Linked DNA regions of Homo sapiens. The protein of the gene in region 5 purifies or fractionates together with the protein of the main gene of each other region. This does not show direct contact. Each region holds a gene or a part of one and is shown on either strand. Other genes may lie near its edges.

Region 1 (3,500 bases), on a different chromosome or scaffold from region 5:
TTATTATAGAGCCAGCTGCTTGCAAATTTTGAGTATAGACGTATGTACTTTACATCTTCATGAAAACCAAATCTTATGTGGCATATGTGCCAATCTTCATGGTTAGTCCAAGTCCCCAAAGTCCTACTTTTAATAATAAGATTTGGAAAGAAAGCAATTAGCAAGGGTAACCAACCAGTAGCCTTGAGGCAACATTTGACTTACCAGAATTTTATGACTCCTTAGGAGTTTTTCTTTTTTTTTTAAAGAAAAAAATTTACAAAATATATTAATGTTACAATTAGAATATGATGTCTTTTGGAAAACATAACAGGGAATATCATTTACATCACGAAGTCTTGACTTAGTAACAGAGGAAGTAAGACTAAGAACATAAGAAAAATTTACTAACTTTATTAACCATTTAGTGTTCACGCTAGGGAATTCTGACCCCAACTCTGGCGAAAAATTTCTACCCTTGGGATAAAAGTAAAGTTAGAGAAGCTATTTTATTGACTGATTGACTAATTGATTTTTGAGATGGAGTCTTGCTCTGTCGCCCAGGCTGGAGTGCAGTGGTGCAGTGGCGCCAACTGTGGCTCATTGCCACCTCCATCCCCTGGCAATTATCCTGCCTCAGCCTCCCTAGCAGTTGGGATTACAGGCATGCACTACCACGCCCGGCTAATTTTTATATTTTCAGTAGAGAGGGGGTTTCACCATGTTGGCCAGGCTGGTCTTGAACTCCTGAACTCAAGTGATCTGCCTGCCAGGCCTCCCAAAATGATGGGATTACAGGCATGAGCCACCATGCCCGGCCAAGAAGCTACTTTAATAGTCCATAAAAAGAAAACATTTGAAAGTCATTTTCTACTTTAAAATCCCTGCACTTAAAGATGAGACAAATTTTCCAGAAACAGATGATTACTGCTTGTACAAAACATCTTCCTTCTGTCTATACCTTTTGTGATTTAAAATTCATTTCTCAGGCTACCCAGTAAACAAGTCAACTACCATTTAATATTCTCTAACAGGCCTGGTATGTAATAATGTACTATTCAACAACTGATGGCTAGCAATAAAATGTGTGTAGAATATTCTTACCCCACTTATTAGGCACCAAACACCTCTAATCTTCCTTTTATTGCAGCATTTTAGAGCCTTTATTCCTTACAAAACTCAATGACTATAGACTATGCTAAATATTTTACATAGGTTATTTTATATAATCCTCAGAACAACCCAATGAGGTAAAAAATCGTGTCAGAAAACTTGAGTCTTAGAGAGGTTGAAGAGCTTATTCCAGAAGGCTGAGGTGTAATACAACTTAGTCTAAGGCCATACTCTTTTTTTTTTTTTTCTTTTTTTTTTTGAGACGGAGTCTCGCTCTGTCGCCCAGGCTGGAGTGCAGTGGCGCGATCTCGGCTCACTGCAAGCTCCGCCTCCCGGGTTCATGCCATTCTCCTGCCTCAGCCTCCGGAGTAGCTGGGACTACAGGTGCCCGCCACCGTGCCCGGCTAGTTTTTTGTATTTTTAGTAGACACGGGGTTTCACCGTGGTCTCTATTTCCTGACCTCGTGATCCGCCTGCCTCGGCCTCCCAAAGTGCTGGGATTACAGGCGTGAGCCACCGCGCCCGGCCGCCAGAGCCCATACTCTTAAGTATTATGAGACTTCCCCACCGAGCTACTAAGGTAGGCAACTCACCGAAGCAGGAACAGGCTCCTGGAATTCAATACTTAATTCATGGCAATAGAGGTAAAGCAGAAGACGTTCACATTTCTGGCCCAAACAAGGAAAGGAAAGCACATGAAATATTTTTCTCCTAATAAAACATTCTCGAGAATGAGAACTATATCACAACAAAGTTTGATTACAACAAACTGAACACAAGCCCCCTGTTTACTAGATACTCAACTAAACATAAACACCCAAAGAAAATTCCCTTGCTTCTCATTTTGTTTTCAGACTATCTTTTGTTCTACTTTAAGTAAGAATGGAAGATAACTAAGGTAATTTATGGAAGGGAGTCACAAAAGCAACATCTAACACTTTGTGCAAAAATTTATAAATTACTTGGTAATAAATAAATAAGTAAATAAATTATCACTGTTGCTCCTCATGGTAATTCCTTAGACAGGCAAGACAAATGTTGAAAGTTATCATCCCCTTTCTTCAAATGATTCCAGTCAGGTTCAAAATGAAAATGGCCTTCTCAGTCTAACTCCAAAAATATTTTTTTACCCAATCATGAGTAAACTGAAATGCATTTTACATTCACAGTCTTCTATTTATCTAAACTTCTTTTAATACAAGTTTGTATACCCTAAACACGTATCTTGTCTTCACAGATAGTGGATGAGGGTTTTTACCAGTATATACACCAGAGTAGAGCCAAACTTAACTCTAATGACCACACGACAATGCAAAAGAGTCTGTCTTTGGCAATCAGACTACAGGCCAGATTGGTAAAAATCTGAGTAAAGTAAGGAGAGAGTTTCCATTTTTAATATGATGAGAAGCTATTAGAGGATTTTAAGCAAGGAAATGATAGACTTGTTTACTTTTTTAAAAAGAACACTGTTTAATACAGAAAACAAACTATAAAGGTCAAGAGCAGAAGCGGGGAGAGCAGTTAAGAGATCACTACAATAGTCCAGATGAGAAATTATGATGTAAGGTAAGAAAATCATATTATAGTTATTATTATTTCATTTCTAATAGGTTTCTAACCTGAGCAACAGAAATGAATGGTGGTATCATTCAATTAAGGGGAATACTGGGGGAGGAATACAGTTTTTTATGTCGTTATTTGCTTGGTTTTGTGCTTGGAGGGAGAGGATTAGAAATTAAGATTTTAGTTGGGACATGTTAAGTTTGAGGAATCTGGATAGAAGGGTCTGTAGTTCAGGGTTAGAGGAAAAAAAGACTTCAGAAATCATCAATATACCATCAGATGACAGGATTAAAAATTAAATGTTATCAGGTTTTGTGTATGCTACACAGGAAAAAAAAAGGTGTATATATAGGCAGACAACTACTGAATCCCAGTGACAAATCAACTTATTTGACACTTACCCTTTGGTCCACGGGGCTTAACCCCTGCGCAGTTTTCCCCTTCTTACTATGTTGCAAATTATCACAATCATATTCAACTTCTGGCTTTCCAATATCTCTACAAAATGTGCATATCCAGTCCCCACTAGACAGGGAAATAGGCAATTAGTCCACGTAATTATAAGAAAGCCTGCTCTAGAGAAGCTACTTCCCTGGACTGGGGCCTGGTTTATTTTCTTAATAATTTTTTGAAAAAAGGGAGGTTTTATAGTTGTGAAATCTCGTCAGGTGAAGTCATGTGATTAAAAACTCCTCTAAATTTTCCTAGTCACGCATCAATTGATTACTTTCTGGAATGCATTATAAAAATGGCACCTCCGCATTAAAAGGGGGTCTCTTAGTAGTGATGAGCAGTACTTGCAGCATAAGGCCTAAGACCAATTCTCTCAGATCCCAGTATCACCA
Region 2 (3,500 bases), on a different chromosome or scaffold from region 5:
TGCCGCAATAAACATACGTGTGCATGTGTCTTTATGGAGAGGATGTGGAGAAATAGGAACACTTTTACACTGTTGGTGGGACCGTAAACTAGTTCAACCATTGTGGAAGTCAGTGTGGCGATTCCTCAGTGATCTAGAACTAGAAATACTATTTGACCCAGCCATCCCATTACTGGGTATATACCCAAAGGGCTCGCATATCTTTTAAAGGCATCAGTAATTATATCACACTTGCTGCTGCTGGTCCTTTTATGCTGTGGCACTAGGAATTTCCCTCCAAGGCATGAAGATTTCGCCTTCAGTCAAAGATGCTAAAAAACGAGAAAAATGTTTTCAAATGACATTCAGCTGCATCCCGTAGCTGGAAATAACTAGAACAGATCTTTCTGGTCCTGGCTTTTCTTAAGATCTCAAACCTGTAGTTCTCAACCTTCATCCTGGCCCCAACAATTCTAAACACTCTTAAAGCAATATTCAGGCCTTAAAACCACAATCTTAGGAATCCACTCACTTCCTTTTTCATAAACATAAATCTCTCTCAGACAGACATCATTCACTGGCACCATCCCTCCTACCTCCATCCCCTTCCCTTCCAAGAGTCCTAAATTCAGATGCCTCTACAGTAATTTGTCACTAAAGTTACACAAGAAAATATAAGAAAAAATACAGGAGAAATGTAACAATACCCAATTAATGAAAAAAATATATGTTTTTAAACTCTTCCAAATTAAGATAGTAAAAATAGAGTTTCTTCTTACTTTTTAATGAGTAAGAAAAGGGCAATTTAAAATTCTCTGAAACTTGAGTTTATTTTTACTTAGGAGATCACATCCTTCTAAAATATATTACTAACCAATCATTATCGTTTCTCACAATGCTTTGTGAAGATACAGTATTGCTGTCAATGAGTAAAAGCATGACCACAACTGGCTAATGCATGGTCCGCTCTTTTATAGACACAGCCTGTCTGTACACCCCTGCTCCCCTTGCCACAGCCCAGCGCCACCAGCACCAACTCCCTACCATAGTGGTTCCCATCTTAACGTTTTTACTGTTTTCCAGGGGATTTTAAAATTTGTTCTTTATGAGTCTACGTCTTCTTTGGGCAATGGAGAATGTTGCTTCACATATTCAAAGTGAAGAGAAATTATCTTTCTACCCCAAGAATCATAGCAAAGGTGTGATTTGGGGGCCAAAAAGTAGCAATCATATAGTAGATAATTCTCCCAAATGTTCCATTGCCAAAAGGATGATTACACTGCTGGTTTTTATAGATAACATGACAAAATGTTTTTGTTCACAGCTAAAACAACCCTAATACAGGTGAACCCACAAAGACTTTCTTTTAGGTCACTACAACCACACTCCCTGCCAATCACCAACCACAGCCCTCAGGAAATGTGCCTCCTGGAGCGTATGGCTCCTTTCACTGAAGGGATTCCAGAGGAGGAGCAAGATCAGGGAGGAAAGTGATGCGTTCAAATTTGAGAATGTGTGTGAGATGTTGATGGACATCCCAGGAAGACAGATGTCCAGGAGGCAGGTGGCTTTGTGGGTGTGAGCATGGACAGACCTGAGCTTCAGATACAGGTCTGTTAATCACCTGAGACATGATGTTGACACTTAAAAGAGAAGGAGAAAAAATGGCAAGCATTAGCGTTAGGACAAAAAACATGTCTTCTACTAGTAATGAAACAAATTGTTTGTAGGTGAGGGAAGGTAGGCAGAAAGGCAAGGTTACTTATGTCTTACACCCTCTATTTTCTCTATGAAATAGAAGATGGTCTGTCTGCTGAGAGCAAAAGGCGGTAGGTTTAACAGACTGAACACCTCATATTCAAAGAACTGTGATGCAGTGGTTGTAAAGTATAGACAGAAAAACTGTCAGAAAGAAATTAGAGATGTCTGGGTGCGGTGGCTCACGCCTGTAATTCTAGCACTTTGGGAGGCCAAGGCAGGTGGATCACTTGAGGTCAGGAGTTTGAGACCAGCCTGGCCAACATTGTGAGACCCCATCTCTACTAAAAATTACAAAAATTAGCAGGGCATGGTGGTGTGCGCCTGTAATACCAGTCATTCAGGAGGCTGAGGCAGGAGAATCGCTTGAACCGGGGAGCCGGAGGTTGCAGTTAGCCAAGATCGCACCACTGCACTCCAGCCTGGGCAACAGAGGGAGACTCTGTCTCCCAAAGAAATTAGAGAAAAAAATTTTAAGTATTCATTCATACTTAGAGGTAATTCTCATTACTAGTGAGCCAGGAGAATAATTCCAGACAGGAATCTATATCCATACAATGTCTGTAATCTTTTGTCAATTTTATTTCCCTATGGTTGGTTTCTTTTGTATGTTTCATCGGTATATTCAATGTGCTATTTAGTTCCAGAGAGTTACATCTTAGGGTAGATTGTACCGTTCAGCATTACAAAGTTTTCTACTCCTATGTAATATTTTTTTTCTTCAATTCTGTTGGGTCATAATATTGCAACCCTTTCAACCTCCTATTTACATTTCCCTGGAATATCACTGCCCATCTTTTTCATTTAAGTTTTAGACTATTTTTTTTAGGTTTTGTTTTTTTAACCCAATCTGAGATTTTAGTAGATGAGAATACCCAAGTTACATGGGGTTTAACAGCTATTCGGTCTTGTCATTCATCTTATTTAATCTTTACATTTTTTAATGCTTCCTTCCTATTTTCTTTCTTTTGCTATATGAAAAAAAAAAAAGAATTGGGTTTTCTTTTTTTTTTGGCTTTTGAGCTGGCAATTTGGACCATATACAGCTTGCTCTCATTTTACCAGTGACAATACATGTGTCTCTGAATAAAATGTTTAAATGTACTATCAACTTCAAAAATAAATATCCAATGAATTCTTACTGACTTATTCAGCTCTTTTTCAGCCACAGCAATTATCTGTTCTTCTGTTCTCCATAGTTTAGATCAGCTTCTCTTAGTCTTATTTCTTATCCCTTTTCTGCATTCTGTATGATTTTGAAATCTTTACTCCATGTTTTTTTCCCTCTTTCTACAGTGTCAATTCTGCTTACTGCAGCCACTATGAATTTTTAGCTTTTTATATCATTGGTCTATCCTCAAAATTCTTACCTCAACAGTTTCCTTTAATCATATCTTCTTGTCTTATCCCATCTCATAGAGCTCCTCCTCACTCAACTGATTTTTAAATGTCCTTGACAGTGTTAAGTAGCTGTGGTAAAATAATTCTTCCATTTTGTTAGGTAAATATCCCTTTGTATTTTCTTCAGCTGTCTCTTCCACACTGTTCCTTTTGCTCCTACAACATTTTAGCATCTTCTCAAGCAAAAGAGTCTCGATTATTGAAGACTTGGTTTTTCACTTGATTTAAAATTGTGTCTGCCTATAGTCTCCAGAGTTTGTGACATAAGGTGGTGGCTTTCCTACTTTTAACATAATTGAGGTTTAAACATATTTATAAACATTTTCATTGTTGTCCATTTAGAAAGGGCTTTAAAAAAATGG
Region 3 (4,043 bases), on a different chromosome or scaffold from region 5:
CCATAAGAATTAGACATCTGTGGCCCTGAAACCACAGATACTAGTAATAGTGACTCAAAGAGTAGAAAAAAAATCACATTTCAATACTGAATCATTTTCAGGTCTGTGGTGTATAACTACACAACAAGATTCTATTATAAGCAATAGCATGTTCCTTCCACTTCAAATTATAACCCCCATCAGTTCAATGGTAAGAATTTTTAGTAAATACAGTGGTGGGTGTATTCTTTTTGTGAGCCTAGAAGGGCTCACTTGCTTATCTGGATGCTTTAGCCAGTCAAGGATATAGATAAGGATGCCATTGATATGAATTTGTGAGATTATTTTATCCTAGTCTCACTTCTTAGTGAGTAGACAGAACTTCAATTTCTAACATTTGTTTTATGAAAATTCCTCAACTTACCTATAAAAAAGGTGTAATCAGCTATTATTTCCTTTTAGTAATAAGATTACATTGAAACTACTATAATACTTTAAGATAATAGACAGGAATAATATAATCATCTTATGACATATTAGTTTATTACATGCATAAAACTATAAATGATAAAAATGAAGAATGTAATGAACAGTTTATGTTTTTTTAAAACAAAGTCAGATTTTAAAAGTTGTACACGGAGAGCAAAAATCACTTTACGTACTCATGATTGGCTTTAATATTTCTTTACACTATACATACTGAAAATGTTTACATTTACTAATAAGGAATGCCAAGCGTATCCATCACCATTTGAATAGCTTGCAGGGGATTTGTGATTTCTTCCATGTTATCTCTTCTCAAAACCCAATCTGGCTTAAGTCTGTTAAAAAAAAAAAAAAAGTCTGGCATTAATAAAGTTCTTCTCTTTAGAGTTACCTTCACCTTTTTTCTCTTAACTAAATTGTAGCTACTCCTGAACACATCATTTCCCTTACAAACTGCTCAAAGAGGTGGGAGAACTTCATATTATTGCCCATCACTAGTTCCAGACTATTTCTCTCCATCCTTTCTAAAAAATAATGCTGGCTTCTTTGAAGCTTATGCTATTTAGCTTGACCACTGCCTTTTGGTCATCAGCCAAACTCTCAGTGTCTTATTCCTTGTAAACCTGGTTCTTGTTCTCCTCTTACCTACTGTCACCGTTCTCAGCAACAGCAACATCTATGTGGCCAAAAAGCCAACAACCTAGTCCGTTTTTGCCCCACTTTCCTTCAATTCTACCTCAACCAATCCTTTTTAATATGATCACATACTAGACTTTGTCATCATCAGAAAGTGTGCGACCACTGAAATCTTGAGACTTCCATTCTCCATCCACCATTTCTGATTCATCCATGTCATATGCTCTAACACAGTCATTGAACCAGTTCTTCTACCCCACTGAGATCTCCACTTCATTTGGCCTCAACACATACCCAACATCCACCAGAATGCTGTCCTTACTTTCCTGTGTATCTAGCTCAGGTGCATCAGTATTATCAAAACCTTTGCAAATGCCATTAACTGTTGTCTCTCTCTCCTACCAAACTAGTCTGAAGAATTCTACTTGGATTTCAAATTGAGTCAAAATATCTGCCTTCTCCATTCCTATACAGCTGCATATTACTAAAAATGTTTACACAACCAAGCTGATTTTATTTTTTGCCAATAATTACAAATCTAAAATGAGCATTTGAAATTGCCAGCATGCTCCCTTTCTCTCCAAGATGACTATCTTGGTCCTTTCCTCTTTTCAAACTTCCCCTCCATACCCTCTGAGCTGCTTCTGAGTTGTTGAGTTTATAATCTCAAACTTATTGAGAAAATAGTATCAAACCGAGGGAGTTCATGCATCTTCTCACATAATTCCCTACTATATGCATTTCCATCATCTTATTTTGTCCTGCTAAAAATCCAAAGATATATCAATTGGTGAGTGAACAAAGTGTGGTACGACCATACAATGGAATAGTACTAAGTGATAGAAAGGAATGAAATTCAAATCCATGCATAAACATGAACGAATTTCAAAAGCATTATGCTAAGGAAAAGAATCCAGTCACAAAAAGCTATCTACTATATGATTCCATATATGTGACAGTATAGAAATGGCAAAACTAAAGGTACAAAAATCAGATCAGTAGTTCCCAAAATCCAGGGAATAAAGAAAGAGAACTGACAACAAAGGGGCATAAGGAAACTTTGTGTTACAGAAATATTTTGTATCTCAGTGGTGGTAGTTTCCTAACTGTATACATTTGTCAAAACGAATTGAATTGCATACATTTAAAGGATGCATTTATACTGTCAGTAAATTTTACCTCAAAAGCCTGACCTACATCAAAATTTTAAGAGAATCCATTCATATGTTAGTATGAGCTTTTAAAACATAATGAATATTAAATTCTACCAAGTCCTTAAAAAACATGTAGAAATGGTCCCATTAATATATTTCAAGCAAATGAACTTTACATTATGCTGTGAAATATGCATGCATAAAACCAATTTATAACTACATTATACAGTTTATAATTATGAGTATAATTATAAAGCTAATGGCTGTGTAACCACTCAGGTCAAGAAATAGTGTGTTGTCAATAATGTAGGATTTGTACCTAGTATAGAGAATTGCTAAGTCTCAAGAAGGAAAGAAGGAAGGAAGGGAGGGAGAGAGGGAGAAGGGGGAAGAAAAAAAGGAGGAGGGAGAAAGAAGGAAGGGAGTAAAAACACTAATTAAATGCCATGACGGTTCACCAAAATAAATTAAATCTTTTTGCCAATAAAATCAGAAAATGTCAATCTAAATTTCCAGAAGGAGAAATTTCAAGAATCAGGGTGATTATGGGAGGACTGGAGGTTGATATTTTGGCTAAGAAGGACTTTTGGCACTTCTTAAACAGTGTAGTTTGTCTTTCATGCAAAATAAAATAAATAAAATAAAATGACAAAACTTATAACAAGCTTCTTAGCCTTAGCTCTTAACTATTTAATATAAGAAGTTTGTTGAATAACTATTAAATGTCCAAAGCTACAGTATAATGTTATTTCTTTATTTACCAAGACTGCTTCTTTTAAATTTACCAAACATTCCATTCTTATTCATATGTTGTTTCTCCACTGAAAAGCACATCTTGTTTATGGTAAGTGCTCAATAAATATTTGTTAAATGAATGAATGAACAGTGACACAAATTTATGGACTATATTTAATTGCTTACCTTGAAACTATTCTGGTCCTTACAGGTGTTTCTGGGATAAAAGGAATGCTTATAGAAGAATTCTTCTTTTGCTTGTAAAGTATTCTTTCAGTATTCATTTTATGTTTATGAGCTGTAAGTTTGTAGAGACTGTAAATACGGTCAACAACTTTGGACCTACTTCGTACATCCTACAAAATAAAATGCACAGTTACTAAAAAGTAATAAGAATTAAAATTTTATCTCTTTTAGACTAGCAAAATCAAATATAATAAAAACTATGCAGTAAACCTTTTTTTTTTCTTTTTTGAGATGGTCTCTCTTGCTCTGTCGCCCAGGCTGAAGTGCAGTGGTGCGATCTTAGCTCAATGCAATCTCTGCCTCCCGGGTTCACGCCATTCTCCTGCCTCAGTCTCCCAAGTAGCTGGGATTACAGGCACCCGCCACCACACCCGGCTAATTTTTTTTGTATTTTTAGTAGAGATGGAGTTTCACCGTGTGAGCCAGGATGGTCTCAATCTCCTGACCTCGTGATCTGCCTACCTCAGCCTCCCAAAGTGCTGGGATTACAGGCGTGAGCCACCGTGCCCAGCCTGCAGTAAACTTTTAAGCTTTGAATAATCAAAGAAACCTCACCAAGTTTGGCAGGTAGATTGATTTAAATTACGAGCTAATTTGCAAGGCAATTATAAGGAAGATAAATATTCAAAAGTTGCATACTTAACTCCACACTGAATATAAGAAGGAATTATTATAGTCAACATAGCAATTATAGTCAACACACCTATCATATCCAGTTACCAAGTCTTGAAAAGTTTACCTCTGCAGTTTCCAAAGTCTTCTACTTACCTCTCAGCGACACAATCCTAAGACAAGCACAATCTCTTG
Region 4 (3,500 bases), on a different chromosome or scaffold from region 5:
AGTAGTGGTCAAGGACCACTTTTCTGTACCTGTTTACTTAAGAAGCAATATACTAAAAATTTTGAGTGCATCCCAACTGCCTTAACACCAAGCTGCCTGAGCCTCTGCCTAGCACAAGGGAACTACTTGTAGGTGGAAGGCAATGAAGAGGGAGGGCCCTGGGGCCACAAGCGCAGTTCAACTACTTGCTAGCTGTGTGAACTTGAGGAAATTACACAACCTCCCTGAGCCTCAGTTTAATGCTATTACACATGCAAAGCACTTAGAACACTGGCACAGAGTAAGTGTTCAATAAATGTTAACTGATTTTGCCCTCCTGATTATAACTCATATACTTATCTCCTCTCACCCCCGACCTGAGCACTGCCCACATGCCAACAAGCATGTGGCTTTGGCATCTTTCAGAATGCAAGCCCCTGGAGGGCATGAATCAAGGTCCCTATGTGTCCTCTCCTAGGGCTCATACTGTTAGACTGGAGCCACAGAAGTTTGGGAACCAGACTTAACACCTTTGTAGAAAAGTTCCTACCTAATGGTACGGATTTGCTCAAAACATTTTTGCTATATGAACTCCATATATGGTAGATCTGTTTATTGTGCTCAGATAATTTTTATCTTATAAATTATTAAGAAAGGAATATTTAATATGACTGCCTAATCCACTCGACATTTAGACTAAAAAGTGACCTACATTATCACTTTAAAGTTAGTCACAATAAATACAACTTACAATGTTCATAGATATTCAGGGTTAAAAACAACGAAACAATGTACTTTTTTTTTTATCAATAAAGAAGTTCAGTTCACAGATAACTGAACATAATATGAAATCACAAATGTACCTTCACTCCTCTTTTCAAGTAGGATCCTTTACAATTTCATAGTGCCTGTGGGCTCTACCCTTTGTAGCACATCATGGGTTTCTATTGTTGGTTAGTTAGCTGGTTTTTATCCTGCAAATGGTGACAGATTTGTGATGATCAACCCAATTCTCTCACCACATCTTCCCCACTGAGACATACATTTTTATGATGGCAGATACAGCCTATAACCAAGAAACTAAATAGGTCAAGTCCACCAGTCTATACAAAGAAATCTTATTAAACTAACCTATCAAATCTAATCTTATTAAATCCCAAACACTGGCAGGGCACGGTGGCTCACTCCTGTAATCCCAGCACTTTGGGAGGTCGAGGCAGGTGGATCACCTGAGGTCAGGAGTTTGAGACCAGCCTGGCCAACATGGTGAAACCCCGTCTCTACTAAACATACAAAAATTAGCTGGGCATGGTGGTGGGCACCTGTAATCCCAGCTACTTAGGAGGCTGAGACAGGAGAATCACCCCATTGCACTCCAGCCTGCATGACAAGAGCAAAACTCTGTCACAAAAAAAAAATAAATAAATAAAAAATCCCCAACACGGTACAGTAGTTTCCCCTCATCCATGGGGGATATATTCCAAGTCCCAGTGGATACCTAAAACCACAGATAGTACTGAGCTATCATAGAACTAACTAACATAGCACAGAGCACACTATATTTTTTCCTATACACACACACCTATGATAAAGTTTAATGTGTAAATTAGGCATAGTAAGTGATTAATAATAACTAATAATAAAAGTGAACAATGATAACAATATACAGTAATAAAAGTTATATGAATGTGGTCTCTCTCTCTCTTAAAATATCTTATTGTACTTTACTCACTTATTTTGAGACCTCGGTGGACCATGGTTAACTGAAACCTTGAAAAGTAAAACCGTGGATGGGAGGGTGGAGGCTACTATAAACAAATGCAATGAATATTAATTGACAATTAGCATCCAAGACTAATCAACCATTTTTACTTGTCACATTTTCAAGTCTAAGTTTATATTTTAGTTCACAATAAAACACACAAAATGAGAGAAATGTACTAGAAAGCAAAGAAGCACATCAGAAGCTACCCCCTCCCCTATGTGCCTTACTTAACCTGTCCTGCCACAGGTTCCTCTAGAGCCACACGACTGCCAGTCCTGCAGTCAAGGAGGATATTACAGCTGAGGGTTCATCCCGCATGACTTTCAGGGCCATGCAGAAAGTAAGGGCTCCATAAATATTTGTTGAATAGATAAATTATTCAAATGGGTTTTATTTTCGTAGCTTTTAAAAGATTCTTAAAAGAGTCTTGTGACTTCCTGCTTGTTGATTACAACTCCCAGTATTTCCATAAATTGAGACTAGTTTAAAAGGTATTTCAATACCACTAAGCAGTAACAGTCATTCTACAGGAGGTATAAAAGTAACATCAGCAACATAATCACAATACGTTAACTTTTTTTTTTTTTTTTTGTCTTGAGACGGAGTCTCACTCTGTCGCCCAGGCTGGAGTGCAGTTGTGCGATCTCACTGCAACCTCTGCCTCCTGGGTTCAAGCGATTCTCCTGCCTCAGCCTCCCAAGTAGCTGAGATTACAGGCATGCGCCACGACACCCAGCTAATTTTTCTATTTTAAGTGGAGATGGGGTTTCTCCATGTCAGCCAGGCTGGTCTCAAACTCCTGACCTCAAGTGATCCGCCTGTCTTGCCCTCCCAAAGTCCTGGGATTACGGGCGTGAGCCACCTCGCCCAGCCACACAATACGTTAACATTTTATATTTGAAAAGCAACGTACTGTTTACAAATGGCTTTCCCTCCACTATCTCATTTAATCATCATAGGTATTACACAGAGTACAACCAATTCTACCACTGTTGTTTTGATGGCGCAGAGGGAAAAAAGGTTAATTCCAGATCAATCATCACATGAGTCAAGACAGAAAATTTTGAACTGAAAGGAATCTAGAAGTTGATCTTGTCCAACCTCCCAGGAAAACTCGAGAAATGTGTTTTTCTCTTTCATTTTAACCTGACTATTTTCTCCTACCTTATCCAAAAAGCTCTGCACATTGTGTTACTAGTTCTACCTATGAGAAGAAAGAGTAAGATGCTGGTACTGCCTGTTGGGACAGCAGCTAAATGTTTACCCAGAGACTTGGCAGATGTAAACATGGCCTTTAAACCCCATCATGGAAAGGGGAAAAGTTGTGTGCCCTTCTAGGAAGATTCACTCATCAACTGGAAAACAGAGATTTTTATGTTTAAATTGCCACCCTGGCTAAAAGGATTATATCTTGATCATCTTCAAGTTAAGAGTAAAGGATACATTCTGCATTCCCCTGAACAAAACACCTAATCCAAACAGATTTTATCTTGTCTCAGTTTAAAAACTGGTGAAAAAAAGCAGAATTTTCCTTTCCATTTCATATTCATCTGATTCAACAAATAAAATATCGGGCCCTAACTATTAATACATGCCAGAAACCAAGTCAGGCACCGCACCAGGTGATACATCTAATTGATTAGGATTAGCAAATTTCTATTCTTTCTCTCGACTGAAATCAATAAAACCCTGTCTTAAATATTAAAGTACTATCCCTGTCCCTCACCTTGACTGTCACTTCTGAGAACATTTGTTT
Region 5 (3,500 bases):
TTTCCAATGACATTGGCCTCTCTGTGTCATAAATCAAAATCCCACGGGTACATTTTGAGACAAATGTTTCCATCAGAATCATTTTGACACAGGTCACTCAACTTAAAGAAACTGTTTTTAGGCGTTCTGCCTATTTGTCGAACAAATATGTACTGGGCTGATATGGTCTGGCTGTGTCCCCACCCAAATCTCATCTTGAATTGTAGTTCCCATAATCCCCGTATGTCATGGGAGGGACCCGGTGGGAGGTAATTGAATCATGGAGGCAGTTACCCCCATGCTGCTGTTCTCGAAATAGTGAGTGAGTTCTCACAAGATCTGATGGTTTTTTTTTTTTTTTTTTTTGAGACGGAGTCTTGCTGTCGCCCAGGCTGGAGTGCAGTGGCGCGATCTCGGCTCACTGCAAGCTCCGCCCCCTGGGGTTCACGCCATTCTCCTGCCTCAGCCTCCCAAGTAGCTGGGACTACAGGCGCCCGCCACCACGCCCGGCTAATTTTTTGTATTTTTAGTAGAGACGGGGTTTCACCATGTTAGCCAGGATGGTCTCGATCTCCTGACCTCATGATCCGCCCGCCTCGGCCTCCCAAAGTGCTGGGATTACAGGTGTGAGCCACCACGCCCGGCCACGATCTGATGGTTTTATAAGGGGTTTTTCCCCCTTTTGTTTATACTTCTCCTTGCTGCCCACCATGTGAAGGATGTGTTTGCGTCCCCTGCCGCCATGTTGTAAGTTTCCTGAGGCCTCCCCAGCCATGCTGAACTGTGAGTCAATTAAACCTGCATCCTTTATAGATGACCCAACTCGGGTATCTCTTTATCAGCAGGGTGAGAACAGACTAAGACATGGGCACTGCTAGTGCAGGCCCTGCGGATGCAGCAGAGGATGAAAGCAGCAACACTGCAGCCTCAAGGAGCCAGGTGTCTGCAGAAGAGGCAGCTGTGGGGTGGGCCTGGGACAGAAGAAGGGCTGAGCCTGGAGAGGCCTGTTCCTCAGCCTCCCTTGGGGAGTTTTATTTTTCTTTTTTTGAGACAGAATCCTGCTCCGTCACCCAGGCTGGAGAGCAGTGGTGCAAACACATGGCTCACTGCAGCCTTGAATTCCTGGGCTCAAGCAATTTTCTCGCCTTAGCCTCCCAAGTAGCTGAACTACAGGTGCACACCACCACACCTAGCCATGACTAATTTTTGTATGTTTTGCAGAGATGGGTTCTTGCTATATTGCCCAGGCTGGTTTCAAAATCCTGGGCTCCAGTGGTCCTCCCACCTCAGCTTCCGGAGTTGCTGGGATTCTGGGGTGAGGCCCTGTGCCTGGCTTCCTTGGGACTCTTCTAAGAGCAGTTTCCCACCCTCCTCTTCACTGGTCCCTCTGCTGGACCAGCCGACCAAAGAGAGGGAGGCCATGGGGACTCAATCTGTCCCTGGCCATCAGCACTTTTTCCCATGTGACAGGGAGGTCTCGGAGCCACCATACAGGGTCTCAATGATTGTGACAAGGCACAATGATGCCTGGCATGGCCTGGAAGGGCTACCTAAAGGGTCAGCACCATCAACCCAGCAGCAGGTTGTATGATCGTCAGGCAGTAGAACCTGACAGCTGAGACTGTGGTCTCTGCGGTTAGGTCTGGGTTCAACTCCTAGCTCCAAACCCACCTCTACTACTCACGGGCTGGATGTCTTCAGGGATGAACTCCTCAGCTTCTCTAAACGTGTGTCCATAGGTGGACCTCCTCTGCCCACTCAGAATAGTCTGTGACCGCCTGTTTCCTGGGGCTCTGATGTAACAAGAGCCCCATGCCTGCCACTCTCAGCACCCATTATGGAGGGGCTTGCTGGGCTGGGTGTGGAGTTCTGTGGAGGGCACTGGAGCCCTGTACTGAAAGGAGAGAGCCCACAGAAACAAAGAGGGCACCGGGCCCTCGTTGCTCATTCTCCCTCCCTCTCTCCTTTCTTCACATGGGGTCCACCTGCTGAGCAAGAGAGACATGGAGGTGGAGGATGGGAACTGGAGATGCCTTCTGCAACACCTTATCCATTCCTTCCTTCATTCAACAAGCACTGGGGGCTACATGACACACAGAATGCCCTGCAATGGGAGCCTGCACAACACAGCAAGACTTCGTCTCCAAAACAATTTTTTAAAATCAGCCAGGTGTAGTGGTGCGTGCCTGTAGTCCCAGCTACTCGGGAGGAGGCTGAGGCAGGAAGAGCACTTGAGCTAATAAGTTCAAAGCTACAGGGAGCTATGATCGTGCCAGTGCACTCCTGCCTAGGTGACAGAACAAGACCCCATATCTATTTAAAAAGAAAAGAAAGAAAAAAGGATGTTCTGTAATGAGGCTTACCGCAACCACCACATCGGATGAGGAACCTGCAATCCAGCAGCCCTGATAAGACATTCTCAGAAGTCAAGGTCTCAAAACCCAAGCACCTGATCCCAAGGAGCTACTGGAGGGTGTTCTCCACCAAAACAAGAGTGTAAACCAAGGGCGAGGAGGGCCTGGGGAGTGAGGAGGGCTGTCAGCTGCCCAGGGGTCTGTTGCAGCCAGGCAGGTTGTGAGTTTTGGCTGATCTGCAGCCCACACCAAGCTGCACAGGGTTGAGGCTTCTCTGTGTTCCAGAAGCTTCCCTGGCAAAGAAGTTGAATGTGGGTCTCTAAAACCGAGGCCACTGCACCCCATCCACTGTGTGGGGCATCCCTGACGCTCTGATGCTGACACCCATCCATGACACAGGGGAAGGGGCACTGACTGAGGGATCCCGGGGTTCTCACTGACCCTGGGACTAATACGCCCCACTTGGGGGTGAGGCTGAGCTCTGTGCCTCCTTCTAACCAAACCCTAACTCTAACTTTCACCAATACTCAGGAATGGGAACTCAAACTTTGGAAGGTCCTCTTGTTTGAGGCGGAGGAAATTCAGGGCCAAAGGGGGGATGGTGGGGACTCCGTGTATATTTTCTCCTGTACTATTAATGTACAAGCTCATATGGAAGGCTTTTTCCACACTGAAAAGGGCTTCCTTCCAGTGTGGGATCTAGACTGGTCTCCTAAGAAGAAAAGGATGCCCAACAACTTTCCCACATTCTTTCCAATCAAAGTGGCCTCTGTCTTGCCAGTTCTCTCACCCACATCCAGGTTACAGCTCCTCCAGAAACATTTCCTGCCTCCTTTCAACTCATCAGGAGCCTTTTCTCCAGGTGGAGCTTGCTCCTGACAAGAGGTGAGTAATGGCTGGGCCCACTGGCTCACACCTGTAGTCCCAGCTACTTGGGTGGCTGAGGTGGGAGGAACACATGAGGCCAGGAGTTCGAGATCATCCTGGGCAACATAGCAAGACCCCATCTCTAAGAAAAAAAAAAAGAAAGAAAAAGAAAAAAATTAGCTGGGCATGGTGACTCAGGCCTGTGGTCCCAGGTACTCGGGAGGCTGAGGTAGAAGGATCGCTTGAGCCCAGGAGTTTGAGGCTGCAGTGAGCCATGAACATGCCACTGCATTCCAGCCT
Region 6 (3,500 bases), on a different chromosome or scaffold from region 5:
ATTATTTTTGATTTTTGAGATATTATCCCTTCTAGTTTTTCTCCTACCTTAATGATTGCTCTTTCAATTTCCTTTGCTGGCCTCTCCTATTTATCAGATCTTTAAATGTTTAAGTGCCACAGAGTCAAAAATTTTGCTTCTCCATTGAAACTCCCTCCAAACTTGACCCTATTCAGTCTTCTGGATTTAAATAATATAAAATACTATTGACTCCCAACTGTTTATATCCAGCATTGACCTCTCTCTGAGTTTCAAAGTTGTGTACCATTCACGTGTCTATGACATTTTACTAGGATATCTAGCAGGTGTCTCAAATTAAACATGTTTAAAAAAGAATACCCAACTTTCTGCCCTTACCTCCTCCCAAGCCCCATAACCTGCTTCTTATCTGATTTGCTTCTCAATAAATGATACCACTGCCTATTAAGTTGCTTAGGCCAAAACTTAATCATAATTCTTAGTTTCTTTCTAAATAGAACTTTCCTAAAATTCTATTTAGGCTTTTTCAACTATGGTTCTGAGAAAGAACTCAGCCCTGCTGATCTAAGACTGGATTAACTTCCCTCCTATGCATCTAGAATAGAATAGCACATCCTTAAGAGAACTAAGAAAGATGGGAACCTCAGTCAAGAAAGGCTGCTAGACTGTGAACAAGCCCCTCTATCCATTATTGTAACTCCAGAAAATGCCATCATATTTCACACAAGATAATGTAATAGGCTGTTACTGGTCTCACAATTCCTGTCCTCAACCCTTTTCAGACCCTTCTCCACACAACAAGCAAAGTCATCTTTGTAAAGTGTAAATCAGATTATAAACACCCCTTATTTTTATTCTCTAGAGGCTTCCTCCTTACATCATAATAAAACTCGAACTCCTTTTTGAGGTTTTGCAAGACTCTCCCTGATCTAAATTCTGCCTACCTCTCTCTGACTTCGTCTCCTGCTAGTCTCCTCTCTCTGCTTTCTTTGCCATACTGGTCTTCCTTCAATCCTTCAAATACGCAAAATAAATCCTGTGTCAGTGACTTTGCAGTTTCTGTTCTGTTTACCCAGAACACTGCTTGCCCTAGATCTATAAATAGCTGCCACCTTCCTAAACTTCAGGTCTCAGGTCAAGTGCTGCCTCCTCACAGAGACTTTCTCTGACTACCCCAATAGAACATGTCTCATCTGCTCCTCCCATCCCACTCCTCGGTTGTTTCCTTCACAGCACCTTTTACCCACTGAAATGATCTTTACTTACTTGTCTACACTTTTTAATGTCTGATTCCCACTACTAGAATACAAGATCTATGATGTTAAGAATTTTGTCTTGTTTATTGCCAAATACAGAGTAAGCAATCAAGAAATGTTAGTTCTATTATATAGTAAAAATATACGGAATCAATTTTGGATGAAGAAAAAAGTCACATGTAATTTGTAGTCTTAACTCACTGGAAGAGTGGTATTTAAATATTATTCTTTTGAAAAAACCAGTCATCTAGTTTCCCAAATAACGTGTGGAGAAATGACACTGGGAACATATTACTTACAGTTTCGTATGTAACAATTGGCAACTGATGACTTTGCCAGGAGTTCCATTCCCAAATCCTGCAATCTGCCAGAGTTTTCAGTTCCACATGCAGCCAGAGCTGCCTGGTCAGCAGAAAAAAGGCTTGTCTGCATGTCTCCAGAAGCAGCACTGCTGCTTTTTATTTCTGAAAGTGTATTCTTTACATCAGTTTTCATACATCGAACTTCGGCCATTTGAGTTTTGAGTCTTTTTAGCATCTTTAAATCAGAGGGCACTCGCCACATTGCCTGTTGCTTCCTTTGGTCTTTATCTTTTCGAGAATATGATGCTTCAGAGAAATTGACAAGTCATGTTAACATAAACGTTAATATTAATGAAATCATTTGTACCATGAATATATGCAAATTTGATGTGTAAAATAAGCTAGCGTGCTTTACGTGGTATCAACAATAAAACATGCACTAAATTCCATTAATGAAAATAAAGATAAAGAATCCTACCTTATTCACACCTTCAGAGTTAGAATCTGAGTCACATCATACTCAAGTTCGAATTACACATTTAATTCTAAAAGTTTAAAAGCTGCCCTACTGCCTTGTGCTTTCTTCTTTAAACTTCTCCACTTTTCTGAAACTTTCTACAGAGCTTTTATTATGTTTATAATTGAAAAAAAAGACAAAGAAAAATCTAGAAACCAAATACTTTGTCAAATCTGCCATATATAACATTATATTAAAAATACATATTTCTGGCCAGGTGCAGTGGCTTATGCCTGTAATCCCAGCACTTCAGGAGGCTGAGGTGAGAGAATCGCTTGAGGCCAGAAGTTCAAGATCAGCCAGGGGAGCATAGTGACACCCTATCTGTACAAAAAAAAATTTTTTTATTAGAACTTCCATTTCTGATAATTTTCTCAGAACTGTCAGCTTTCTGAAATACGGTTTGAATCTAACCACTTCTAAAATAAAACAATAGCTCTCCATGCCTAGTATGAATAAATTCCTCCGGCTAGCATGCAAGTCCTTTCATAGAATGGACCCAACATGACTCTAGTTCTACTTACCACTATATGTACCTTAAAATCTGGTTCAACTAGATTACCTGATACCTTTTACAGTACTCCTTTACATGGTTAAGAACATGAAGTTAATCTGACAAATGTTCACTAAATATGTGTTAAATAAATACACAGAAAAAAATAAACATCAAAGCCCAAGCAGGCCACGTGCAGTGGCTCACGCCTATAATCCCAGCACACTTTGGGAGGCCGAGGCAGGTGGATCACTTGAGCTCAGGAGTTTTGAGACAAACCTGGCCAACATGGTGAAACCTGTCTCTACAAAAAATTGTAGAGCACTCCAGCCTGGGCAACAGAGTGAGACTCTGTCTCAAAAACAAACAAACAATCAATCAAACAAAAAATGACCCAAGCAAGCCTTTTCAATAAAAAGAAAGTCATATATTTCTGCACACTAGCTTTTATTAACATCCCTTCACTGAAAGGTATTTTCATTTGGCTTCCATGAGTATTTTTTCTCCTTTCTAAAAGCTCTTTATCTGGCTCATCTTCCTGACACTCAGTAAAAACAGATATTCATCAGGATTATGTTCCTGGCTCTCTTCTTTTAAAATATTCTTAAAACTCCTTTGCAATCTCACACCCTTGGTTTTAATTATCCAGTATCACCTCCAGAAAAATAACTGTCTGTATTCCAGTTCATTTTTTTTTTTCATGGAGTTTCACTCGTTGCCCAGGCTGGAGTGCAATGGCACGATCTCGGCTCACTGCAACCTCCGACTCCCAGGTTTAAGCCATTCTCCTGCCTCAGCTTCCCAGGTAGCTGGGATTACAGGCACCTGCCACAATGGCCGGCTAATTTTTTGTATTTTTAGTAGAGACAGGGTTTCACCATGTTGGCTAGGCTGGTCTCGAACTCCTGACCTCAGGTGATCCACCCGCCTCAGCCTCCCCAAGTGTTGAGATT
Region 7 (3,500 bases), on a different chromosome or scaffold from region 5:
TACTGCTATTAATCCAGATTTTAACTATAAATCCTTAGGTCCATGAATTTCCCCAACCGCTTGAAATCACAGGAAATAGTTATTTGATAGATGTACTGCCCAGTATGGCACCCACCAGCCCTCTCTGGATGATATTTAAATTAGTTGAAAGTGAAATAAAATTTAAAATCCATTTCCTCAGCCTTACTGGCCACATCCCAGCTGTTCAGTAGCCCGGTGTGGCTAGTGGCTGGCCTAGGACAGCAGGCAGAGAACTTTCCATGGTCACCGGAAGTTCTGTCGAGCAGTGCTGGGCTTGAGCGTCTCAACTTCCAGGCTCAGAGGCCATGGAAAGCTGGAGGTGGTGCAGAATCTGCCTTTCCTCACTCCATGGCCCCAGGCAGTTTCCCATTCTAGGGGTTCTCTGGGTTACTAAGAACCACGGGCAGCCGTAGATGGCTCCAGTGGGTGCACCCTTGAAGCAATGGGGATTTTTACTGTACAACTTACTCGAAGTGATGCCAAAACCATCCTTGAGAGGAAAATGCACTCCTTCCTGAAAATCCTGATTGAGATTTACTTGTTTGACTTTTAGATTCAAAAAGCGGTGAGGTCGATGCCACGTCAGACCAGGAAGAGTCAGTTGCTTGGGCCTTAGCAGTAAGTGCTGCCTTTAGTAATGAATGGACAGAGGGGGCGCTTGGGGGCTCAGGGGTCCATCAAAGCCCATGTGGCCTGAGGCGGGCAGCGCTGCCTGCACTTTTCTGGAAGTCCTCTCCTGAGGCTGGCTTTTGCTACTTCCAAGTCTCGGATTTCCTCGTGTCGATTCCCTTCAGCGGTAAGGCCCTCCTCTCAGTCTAGCACCTGGCAGCCAGTTCTACCCCCAGTGCAAGCCTGATTCACGATGATTTTCACTCTGCAGATAAAGCTGTCAGTGTGGTTGGCAGGGCGCCATCTGCCTGGATGAGCACACGACAGGAAAGCTGGGCTCTCGGTCAGTCTCCCCTACAGGGGCAGGGTAAAAAGAGAGGTGTTCTAGGGAGTATTTCCAGGTCTGTCCTCAAATGCCCCAAGTCACAAGGTCGCCTCATTGGGCAGCCGTCACTAACCCAAACAGTAAGTGTCATCTATATGTCTGTTTCCCAGAGTGCCCCCTGGGTCACAGAAACCACCCGTTTTCTTATGGGATGTGCTTCTTATCCTCCTTGGTTGGGATAGATGCGAATTTACACAGAGCTTAACCAGCTCCAGCATCTTTCCTGGCCCCCGTGTCACACTCTGTTGCCTGCCAGAATACCTGATGCATGGTTTTCCTCTAAAATTGCTACTTTTGTGCAGAGGGTTTCCCACGCACCCATGTGTGACTTTCAGTGACTAAGAAAAAGGCCGTGGTCCTGGGGAAGAAAGTGGATGCTCACTGAGAGATTGTGTAGGGATTGGAACAAAGGGGAAGTGGGTGGTACCAAGAGTCAAGAACCAAAGTGCCAGCCCCACTCAGCAGAGGATAGAGGGTGACGCCCTCTATTTCCAGTGTCTAGCAGGGGAGGGGTAGGAGAGCCTCCTGAGCTGGAGCACTGAATTTCTGTTTTTGTTTTTGGTTCTTTTGAGATGGAGTTTCACTCTGTCACCCAGGCTGGAGTGCGGTGGGGCAATCTCAGCTCACTGCAACCTCTACTTCCTGGGTTCAAGCGATTCTCCTGCCTCAGCCTCCCAAGTAGCTGGGACTACAGGCGCCCACCACCATGCCCAGCTAATTTTTGTATTGTAGTAGAGATGGACTTTCACCATGTTGGCCAGGCTGGTCTCGAACTCCTGGCCTCAAGTGATCCACCTGCCTCAGCCTCCTAAAGTGCTGGGATTACAGGCATGACCCATCACACCCAGCCAGGAGCACTGAATTTCTTATAAACTTACCAGTTTGAAGTTATTACCAGTAGTTGAGTCCTGAACTCACCTATGAATATTCAGATTTTTTTTTTCCTGGTCTAGCAATGCTGTCATAAACTTCTCTAGACATGGTTTTTTTGTGTGTGTGTGTCTTTTTACATTCTTTTGGATTATTAACATAGCAGGAAGTGAAAAAGTGACTTTGAATAACATCATGGAGGTGAAAGTGACTTTGAGTAGGATCATGTAAAGATTTGTACATTAATGAGCTTGCCAGTTTGTTCCAGAAGCCAAAAGGTCAGCTATACTCAGAAGCTCTTAAAAATTCTGACTTCTCTTTTTTGATCAGCCTGCAGTGCCTCAAAGCCCTTTGAAAAATGAATTAAGAAGGAAATACTTGACCCAAGTGGATATACTGCTACAAGGTGCAGAGTATTTTGAGGTAATCTGTTTCCCAGTTGTTTGTTTTTATATAATTAGATCATAAACTAAATACATTGAGGTACAGTGTTATTATGCTTTTTGTTTTTTCTACAGAACCCATAAAGAGCATTTGAAGTAATGATTTCCAAATTGTTTTATTCACATGCTGACATACTTGCTCTTCTTGAATAAACACTCCAGGTCCCCCAGGGCAGCGCCATCAGGAAGGTGGGAGCCCTGGCAGGGGTGCTCTGCCCACTGTTCTGGGGCAACTCACAGAAAAATCTAGTGGGGCAGCCAGGCACAGTGGCTCATGTCTGTAATCCCAGCACTTTGAGAGGCCAAGGCAGGTGGGTCACTTGAGGTCAGGAGTTTGAGACCAGCCTGGCCAACATGGTGAAATCTCATCTCTACTAAAAATAGAAAAATTAGCTGGGTGTGGTGGTGCGTGCTTGTAATCCCAGCTACTTGGGAGGCTAAGGCAGGATAATCGCTTGAACCCAGGAGGCGGAGGTTGCAGTGAGCTGAGATTGTGCCACTGTGCTCCAGCCAGGGTGATAGAGCAAGACTCTATCTCAAAAAAAAAAAAATCTATTGGGGCCACACACGGGACTCTTAAGAGCAGCCCTGACCTCTGGACCAGGATTTGAAGCTGCATAGTTAGGGAAGCAATAGTCCCCACATTCCCTGGTGCGATCAGGCTAGAATCAGCTGCAAGGTGAGGAGGCTGACCCTTGGCACCTGTCCCGCCTGCTGAGAGGTCATGTTGGGAGGGGGGGGATGTGATGGCATGAGAGGTGGGCACACTCACCTGCCAACCCCTCTCTTAAGGTCAGTGCCCTCTGCCATAGAATAAAGGACATTGCAACACCAAATACTTAGGAAGTACACATTGCAGAATAAGAATTCATCTCCAGAAAAAGGCAGCAATCTCACAGGGGTGTATGTGTTTTCTTACTGTGCTGCTGACCAGCGGAAAGCCTGTATTTGTGGACCACCGACTTAGTGGATGTACCTGAAATGCTTTTTCCTTTAACCCAAGGCAGCAAGTGGTGTCCTCTTGGTTGCTGTGTTGATCCAGGGAACAGATTAGGGTTAGGAACGAACGGATCTACTGGGTCTTCTTTGTCCACCGTCCGGTTGGCCCCTAGGTGTTCTTGTGGTCTGAGTATAATGCTAGACAAAGAAAGCTACCAGCGCCCCTGGGGTAA

Evidence for each region.
Region 1: the proteins of ZNF333 (region 5) and TRIM33 purify together in Homo sapiens (affinity purification with mass spectrometry; one large-scale study listed by BioGRID and IntAct). This does not show direct contact.
Region 2: the proteins of ZNF333 (region 5) and MRPS9 purify together in Homo sapiens (co-immunoprecipitation; one large-scale study listed by IntAct). This does not show direct contact.
Region 3: the proteins of ZNF333 (region 5) and ASPM purify together in Homo sapiens (affinity purification with mass spectrometry; one large-scale study listed by BioGRID and IntAct). This does not show direct contact.
Region 4: the proteins of ZNF333 (region 5) and ARL15 purify together in Homo sapiens (affinity purification with mass spectrometry; one large-scale study listed by BioGRID and IntAct). This does not show direct contact.
Region 6: the proteins of ZNF333 (region 5) and TRIM37 purify together in Homo sapiens (co-immunoprecipitation; one large-scale study listed by IntAct). This does not show direct contact.
Region 7: the proteins of ZNF333 (region 5) and HJURP purify together in Homo sapiens (affinity purification with mass spectrometry; one large-scale study listed by BioGRID and IntAct). This does not show direct contact.

What each region holds. Positions count from the first base shown.
Region 1 is NC_000001.11:114,399,704-114,403,203, forward strand, and holds part of TRIM33 (E3 ubiquitin-protein ligase TRIM33), read right to left. Parts: intron 3,181-3,500; coding exon 3,057-3,180; intron 1,761-3,056; coding exon 1,686-1,760; intron 1-1,685. UniProt on the Homo sapiens protein: Acts as an E3 ubiquitin-protein ligase. Promotes SMAD4 ubiquitination, nuclear exclusion and degradation via the ubiquitin proteasome pathway. According to PubMed:16751102, does not promote a decrease in the level of endogenous SMAD4.
Region 2 is NC_000002.12:105,044,569-105,048,068, reverse strand, and holds part of MRPS9 (small ribosomal subunit protein uS9m), read right to left. Parts: intron 1-3,500.
Region 3 is NC_000001.11:197,083,627-197,087,669, forward strand, and holds the end of ASPM (abnormal spindle-like microcephaly-associated protein), read right to left. Parts: intron 3,347-4,043; coding exon 3,177-3,346; intron 801-3,176; coding exon 698-800; 3' UTR 501-697; downstream 1-500. UniProt on the Homo sapiens protein: Involved in mitotic spindle regulation and coordination of mitotic processes.
Region 4 is NC_000005.10:54,304,074-54,307,573, forward strand, and holds part of ARL15 (ADP-ribosylation factor-like protein 15), read right to left. Parts: intron 1-3,500.
Region 5 is NC_000019.10:14,700,048-14,703,547, reverse strand, and holds part of ZNF333 (zinc finger protein 333), read right to left. Parts: intron 3,343-3,500; exon of another isoform or gene 1,664-3,342; intron 1-1,663. UniProt on the Homo sapiens protein: May be involved in transcriptional regulation.
Region 6 is NC_000017.11:59,026,881-59,030,380, forward strand, and holds part of TRIM37 (E3 ubiquitin-protein ligase TRIM37), read right to left. Parts: intron 1,844-3,500; coding exon 1,535-1,843; intron 1-1,534. UniProt on the Homo sapiens protein: E3 ubiquitin-protein ligase required to prevent centriole reduplication. Probably acts by ubiquitinating positive regulators of centriole reduplication.
Region 7 is NC_000002.12:233,844,536-233,848,035, reverse strand, and holds part of HJURP (Holliday junction recognition protein), read left to right. Parts: intron 1-574; coding exon 575-639; intron 640-2,215; coding exon 2,216-2,308; intron 2,309-3,500. UniProt on the Homo sapiens protein: Centromeric protein that plays a central role in the incorporation and maintenance of histone H3-like variant CENPA at centromeres.